Homo sapiens: one gene and its partner. The protein of the gene in region 1 purifies or fractionates together with the protein of each later gene. This does not show direct contact. Each region holds a gene or a part of one and is shown in the gene's direction. Other genes may lie near its edges.

What was found.
Region 2: the proteins of ZNF829 (region 1) and CRYBG1 purify together in Homo sapiens (affinity purification with mass spectrometry; 3 studies listed by BioGRID and IntAct, with this or other methods). This does not show direct contact.

The regions. Positions count from the first base shown.
Region 1 is NC_000019.10:36,888,630-36,892,556, reverse strand, and holds part of ZNF829 (zinc finger protein 829), read left to right. Parts: intron 1-85; coding exon 86-1,065; 3' UTR 1,066-3,927. UniProt on the Homo sapiens protein: May be involved in transcriptional regulation.
Region 2 is NC_000006.12:106,363,459-106,367,385, forward strand, and holds part of CRYBG1 (beta/gamma crystallin domain-containing protein 1), read left to right. Parts: intron 1-3,927. UniProt on the Homo sapiens protein: May function as suppressor of malignant melanoma. It may exert its effects through interactions with the cytoskeleton.

The DNA.
Region 1 (3,927 bases):
TTCAGTTTAATTCTCCCATTTCTTTTTTAGAAGTTTTAACTTGCCCAGAATAGGAAAATTTATTTGCCTTTGTATTTTCTTTCAGATCTGGAATCAATGTGTGAGACCAAAATATTATCTCTAAAGAAGAGACATTTCAGTCAAGTAATAATTACCCGTGAAGACATGTCTACTTTTATTCAGCCCACATTTCTTATTCCACCTCAAAAAACTATGAGTGAAGAGAAACCATGGGAATGTAAGATATGTGGAAAGACCTTTAATCAAAACTCACAATTTATCCAACATCAGAGAATTCATTTTGGTGAAAAACACTATGAATCTAAGGAGTATGGGAAGTCCTTTAGTCGTGGCTCACTCGTTACTCGACATCAGAGGATTCACACTGGTAAAAAACCCTATGAATGTAAGGAATGTGGCAAGGCTTTTAGTTGTAGTTCATATTTTTCTCAACATCAGAGGATTCACACTGGTGAGAAACCCTATGAATGTAAGGAATGTGGAAAAGCCTTTAAGTATTGCTCAAACCTTAATGATCATCAGAGAATTCACACTGGTGAGAAACCCTATGAATGTAAAGTATGTGGAAAAGCCTTTACTAAAAGTTCACAACTTTTTCTACATCTGAGAATTCATACTGGTGAGAAACCTTATGAATGTAAAGAATGTGGGAAAGCCTTTACTCAACACTCAAGGCTTATTCAGCATCAGAGAATGCATACTGGTGAGAAACCTTATGAATGTAAGCAGTGTGGGAAGGCCTTTAATAGTGCCTCAACACTTACTAACCATCACAGAATTCATGCTGGTGAGAAGCTCTATGAATGTGAAGAATGTAGAAAGGCCTTTATTCAGAGCTCAGAACTTATTCAACATCAGAGAATCCATACAGATGAAAAACCATATGAATGTAATGAATGTGGGAAGGCCTTTAATAAAGGCTCAAATCTTACTCGACATCAGAGAATTCACACTGGTGAGAAACCCTATGACTGTAAGGAATGTGGAAAGGCTTTTGGTAGTCGCTCTGACCTCATTCGCCATGAGGGAATTCATACTGGTTGAATGACAGTAAAGTAAGACCATTTTGTTAACCTTTATAATAATTTTTTTAAAACAGGTAAGGAGAACAAATTAGGATACATATTATCAAAGGTTCTCCTATGTATTCGTTTTTAAACGATACGATAACAAAGTACCAAGTACCAAAACCTTGGTGGCTTAAAACAAGAGAAATTTATTCTCTCATAGTTTAGAGCCTGGAAATCTAAACTCAAGGGTGCTGATCGTTTTGGTTCCTTCTGAGGACTCTGAGGATCTGTTCTATGCCTTTTTCCTAACCTCTGTTAACAGCTGGCAGTCCTTGGCATTCCATGGCTTTTACATACACCATTCCAATCTCTGCCTCCATCTTCACATTGCATTCTCGCTGTGTATCTCTGTGTATGTCTTTTATTTGGACACCAGTCAGGTTAGATTGGGGTTACCTGGTGACCTCATCTTAACTTGATTATATCTGCCAAGACCCTGTTTCCAAGTAAGGTCACATTTACCGGTACCAGGGGTTAGGACTTCAGCATATCTTTTTAGGGGATACAGTTCAACCCATAATACCCTGTTAGAATGATTTTGTCTAATATATTTGTAATTTCCTTTTATACATAAGTTGTTAGTCAAATTTATTTTATTTTATTTTATTTTGAGACAGAGTCTCGCTCTGTTGCCCAGGCTGGAGTGCAGTGGTGTGATCTCAGCTCACTGCAACCTCCAGCTCCTGAGTTCAAGCGATTCTTGTGCCTCAGCCTCTCAAGTAGTTGGGATTACAGGCATGCGCCACCATGCCCGGCTAATTTTTTTTTTTTTTTTTTTTGTATTTTTAGTAGCGACGGGGTTTCACCATGTTGGCCAGGCTGGTCTTGAACTCCTGACTTCAAGTGATCTGCCCGCCTCAGCCTCCCAAAGTGCTGGGATTACAGACGTGAGCCACCGTGATGGCCAAAACAGACTTTATACCAACAAAAATTAAAAAGGACAAAGAAGGTCATTTATAATGATAAAGGATAAATTCAACAAGAAGATAAAACAATCCTAAATATGTATGCACCCAACACTGCAACACCCAGATCCATAACACAGATACTACTAGACCTAAGAAAAGAGATAGACAGCAATACAACAATAGCAGGGGACTTCACCACTCCATTGACAGCACTAGACAGATCACTGGGACAGAAATCAACAAAGAAACTCTGGACTTAAATTGGACTCTACACCAAATGGACCCAACAGACATCTGAAGAACATTCTACCCAACAACCACAGAATATATACTCTTCTCTTCTGTGCATGGAACATTCTCAAAAATAGGTCATATACTGGACCACAAAGCAAGTATCAATAAATTTTAAAAAAACAAAATCATATCTAACATCTTCTCTGACCATAGTGGAATAAAACTAGATATCAATACCAAGAGGAACTCTCAAAACAGATACATGGAATTTAAACAGCTTGCTCCTGAATGATTTTTGGATCAATGATGAAACTAAGGTGGAAATTTAAAATTTTTTGAAATAAATGAAAATAGAGACAAAACACATGAAAACATCTGAGATACAGCAAAAGCAGTGCTAAGAGAGGATTTTATAGCATTAAATGCCTACACCAAAAAGATAGAAAAATCTCAAATGAATAGCCTAACGTCACATCTCAAGGAACTAGGAAAAAACAAAACAAACTCAACCCAAAGCTGGCAGAAGAAAAGCAATAACAAATATCAGAGCAGGCAAAAATGAGACTGAGAACAAAGGAATGCAAAAGATCAATAAAAGAAAAAGTTGGTTCTTTGCAAAGATAAAACTGACAGACCACTAGCTAGATTAACCAAGAAAAAAAGAAGATTCAAATAAATACAATCAGAAATGATAAGGTGATATTATAACTGATAACACAGACATATAAAATATCAGCAGAAACTATATGCACATATTAGAAAACCTAGAGGAAGTGGATAAATTCCTAGAAACACATAACCTTCCAAGATTGAACCAGGGAGAAATAGGAATCCTCAACAGACTACTGAGTATTGAAATTGAATCAGTAATAGAAAAAAATCTTGCAAAAACAAAAAGCCCAGGACCAGACAGATTCACAGCTGAATTCTACTAGACATGCAAGGAAGAACTAGTAACAGCACTATTGAAACTATTCCAAAAATTATAGGAGGGAATCCTCCCTAACTCATTCTACAAAGCCAGTATCATCCTGATACTGAAGCCAGGCAAGGATAAAACACACAAAAAAACTACAAGCCAATATCCCTGATGAAAATAGACACAAAAATCTTCAGCAAAATACTAGCAAACCAAATCAAACAGTACATAAAAAAGATAGTAACAGCACAGTCAAGTGGATTTTATTCCTGGGGTGTAAGGATGGCTCAACATATGCAACTCAATACATGATTCATCACATACACAGAATTAAAAATAAGCCAGGCACTCACACCTGTAATCCCAGCACTTTGCAAGGCCAAGGCGGGCAGATCACATGATGTCAAGAGTTTGAGACCAGTCTGGCTGACATGGCGAAACCCTGTCTCTACTAAAAATAGAAAAATTGGCTGGGCATGGTGGCAGGCACTGTAGTCCCAGCTACTTGGGAGGCTGAGGCAGGAGAATTACTTGAACCTGAGAAGCGGAGGTTGCAGTGAGCTGAGATAGTGCCATTGCACTCCAGCCTGGGCAACAGAGCAAATTGCTTGAATGTGGGAGGTGGAGGTTGCAGTGAGCCGAGATTATGCCATTGCACTCCAGCCGGGGGAGCAACAAAGCCAGACTCCATCTCAAAAAAAAACCAAAAAAAATCCTATTTAGTACAAGGTACATTATTTAGGTAATGAGTCCATTAAAAGCCAACACTTTCCCC
Region 2 (3,927 bases), on another chromosome or scaffold:
AGAGAGTGTACTTCTTTCTGGTTTAAAGAGAGTGGCAAAAGCACCCTTAGATTTCAAGCCAGTTTGCCCAGTGTGGCTCTCTTAAGCCTCCTGACCATATCCCTTCATTTCTGTCCAGGACTTGGAAGTGATGGAATTTGGCTGGAATGTGCAGCACTCACTGTGGTTTTTGTCTCTAAATAAGGAGGGGACAGTCAGGTAGCCACCCATATTTGCTTATTTGATTAATATTATGGGTGTTTAGGTCAGAAAAAAATGAATTTATCTACTAGCTTTGTGACCTTGGGCAAGTTATTTCACCTCTTAAAATCTCAATTTCCTCATCTGTAATATGGAGACAATAGGATGCTGACTCTGTAGGGTTGTCATGAATATTAAATGAAAGTTTATGTTATTAAGTGCAAAAACCTTAACACACTTCTGAGCACAAAGTAGAAACTCAGTAAATGCAAAAGCATCCTGGTCATCATCATCATCATCATCATCATCAAAGCAAAGGTCTAATGGAAGAAATGGAAAAGATAGGTTTGGATAGGGGAAAACCAACTCTAGGAAGATCTTTTCCTAGAAAAGTTTACCAGTCCAGCCGGGTGCGGTCACTCACGCCTCTAATCCCAGTACTTTGGGAGGCCAAAGCAGGTGGATCACCTGAGGTCAGGAGTTTGAGACCAGCTTGGCCAACATAGTGAAACCTCATCTTTACTAAAAGTACAAAAAAATTAGCTGGGCATGGTGGCTCACACCTGTAATCCCAGCTACTCAGGAGGCTGAGACAGGAGAATCCCTTGAACCCAGGAGATGAAGGTTGTGGTGAGCCAAGATCATGCCATCGCACTCTAGCCTGGGCAACAAGAGTGAAACTCCATCTCAAAAAATAAAAAAAAAAAGAAAGAAAAGCTTGCCAGTCCAAAGATGATTTAAAGTTTATTAAAGTCAGATTTTCGTATTCTGCAAATATTTGTGGCTTTTGGTATAGACATTCTAATCAATTATTTCTTTATATGAAATAATTTGAACTTGGCTACTTCTCTTTCCAAAATTTACTCTTAAAGTTTTTTTTCAGCTTGGTTTTGGTAAACATGGTCATATGATGTTATTTTTCACAAAGATAGAGTTGCTGCCCTCCTGAGTCAGCCCCATCCCCTGTCTAGTCCATAATTCTCTTGCCATTAGAGGGTCTAGTGGTGTGGTGGAATGAGCATGGCGAGCTGTGGCCAGGCCACTTAGCAGCCACTAGTGGCACTGTCATTTACCACATTTTAAATTATACTCTGTCTTGTGAATAATGTGCTCAGAATGTGGATTCTCTACTTGGATTTAAATTCTTGTTCTTCTGTTAATACTTACCATGACACTGAATCCTATCATCCTAGGAAAGTTATTAACATTTTTGTGCCACAATTTTCTCATTCACAAAATGGGAATCATAAGAGTTGTTATAAAAATAAACGAGTTAATGCATTTCAAGTGCTCAGAACAGTGGTTGGCACATAGTATGTGCTCAACCAATGGGAGTTGTTTCTCTTTTTCTTACTAGTTTCTTGCTTATGCCTCCTTTGGAGTAGGAATTTTGTGTGTTTTTCTGCTATATAATGAAAGTGGTACTTTCTTTTTATCTATTCAAGCCACTTTGTGTTATTTTGGTTTTTTTAAATATTAAAAATAGTAAAAATATTAAAACATAAAAAGGCTGCATGTGGTGGCCCACACCTGTAATCCCAGCACTTTAGGAGGTGGAGGCGGGTGGATCACCTGAGGTCAGGAGTTCAAGACCAGCCTGGCCAACATGGTGAAACCATGTATGTAAAAATACAAAAAATTAGCCAGGGGTGGTGGCGGACGCCTGTAATCATAGCTACTTGGGAGGCTGATGCAGGAAAATCACTTGAACCTGGGAGGTGGAGGTTGCAGTGATCTGAGATCGTGCCATTGCACCCCAGACTGGGTGACAGAGTGAGACTCTGTCTCAAAAAAAGCAAAACGAAACAAAACCAAAAAAAAAAAAACATAAATAGAGACAGGGTCTCACTATGTTGCCCAGGCTGGTCTCAAACTCCTAGGCTCAAGCAGTCCTCCCGCCTTGGCCTCCCAAGTGCTAGGATTACGGGTGTGAGCCACCACATGTGGCCATACTTTTTGTTATTTTGATTAGAAGTGGGTCCTTAGCTAAAGGTCAAAAGCAGTGAATTATTTCCATTGAGTTCTTTGTTTAAGAACCTGTATTTTTTTTTAAAAAAAGCAGTGAATTAAAAATTATCACCATTGAACTGAATTGAACTCCACATCTAGAAACAAGCATTAATGCTCCCTGCAGGAGAGCCAAATTCAAGCAGTAGATGGGTCTCATAATCCTGTGAAAATCAGCTCGCCTTGTTTCAGTTGGAGGAAAAGTGTAGCCAGTGTCAAGGGCAGAGCATCCTCATTGGGCAGGCAGAGATCTACCTCTGAGTGAAGGCCAGCAGGCTCAAGTTTCAGAACTATAGACAATCCCTTAGTTTTTCTGTACTCAGTGGACCTTTCCCTTCTATAAAGAGAAAACAACTAACTCCCTGTTTATATCACTAGAATGTTGTAAGGATAAACTATTGTTATCTGGAGCGTTTTTCTTTTTTCTTCAGAAAAAGAACAATCATTTAAAATGTTATTTGAAAGCATTCTGGAACTGTAGAGTGTTAGTCTTCGTAACTTAAAATTGATTCTAGTTTCCAGTCTTTTGTGGCTGGTTTGGTGCTTAGAACTCTAAACAGGTTTAATTATTTTCTAGCATAAAGAACATAGCCAGGTAAGTCTATTTTTGTTTTATGTAATGTTAGATTTAAACTGGTTAGTACTGAGTTTTCCCTCTTATTTTCCTTATACTAAAGGAAAGAGTTTTAATTTTTAGGTTTATTTTATTTCACCAGTGATAAACCAGTAATTTAAAAGTAAGTCTGCCACTAGCTGTGAGCTTCTTGGGAAGTTAGTTTACCCCGATAACTTCTGTTGTATGATCTGTGACCTATCTCTTAACATTGTTTTTGAGAGTTATAAATATATATTTTTTAAAAATGACTAGCCTAGTACCTGGCAGATAACAGAAACTCAGTAAATAGTACCTCTGAAAGCATGCCACAGTCAAAGGATAGTAGACTTTGGTGTTGGGCAGACTTAGTTTCAAATCTGCCTCTGCCATTGGGATAGATTTTTAACCTCTTTAAGTCTCAGTTTCTTCACCTGTAAAATGGAGGCAATTACACTTCTCTTATGGAGCTGTAGGAGGATTGGATGTTATCTATGTAAAGCACCCAGCACAGGGCTTGGCTCAAAGCAAGTGCTGGATAGAGGAAAGGTGGTGGTCAGTAGCAGGGGCAATACTGGCAGTGATAGTTGTAATTATTGTTGTCTTTATAGTAATGGTAGTAGTATTAATACATACATTGTTACTTTGTGAGTGGAGTAAAAACTTCAGAGGCCCAGAAGTCGTAACCAGGTCTGTTAAGCTTTGAAGTACCTTTGAGTATTTGGATGTTCATGTTGGTCTCTAAAAGGGAGACCCTTCATGCGCTCTCAGTGCCTTAAAAGTCTTAATATATCTCACTGAGGAAGCCAAGGCTAAACTTTCTACTTGACATTACAGGAGTTTTTCCCAAAGGGATTTTGGAGTCTGAGTTTAGCATACGATAATCATTTGCCACTTATCTCTGTCATTGAATTACTTTATCCCCCCTCTATTTCCACACTTTCCATCACAATCTACTCTCCATAATCAAGTGGCAGTGACATAAACCCTTTTGGGGACCTTTAGTAAGACCTTCGAAACTTGAGTTCACTTCTTTTTTCTTCTTTAGCTCTTTTTTAAAAAAATATTGGGCCAGGTGTGGTGGCTCACACCTGTAATCCCAGCACTTTGGGAGGCCAAAGTGGGCGGATCACAAGGTCAGGAGATCC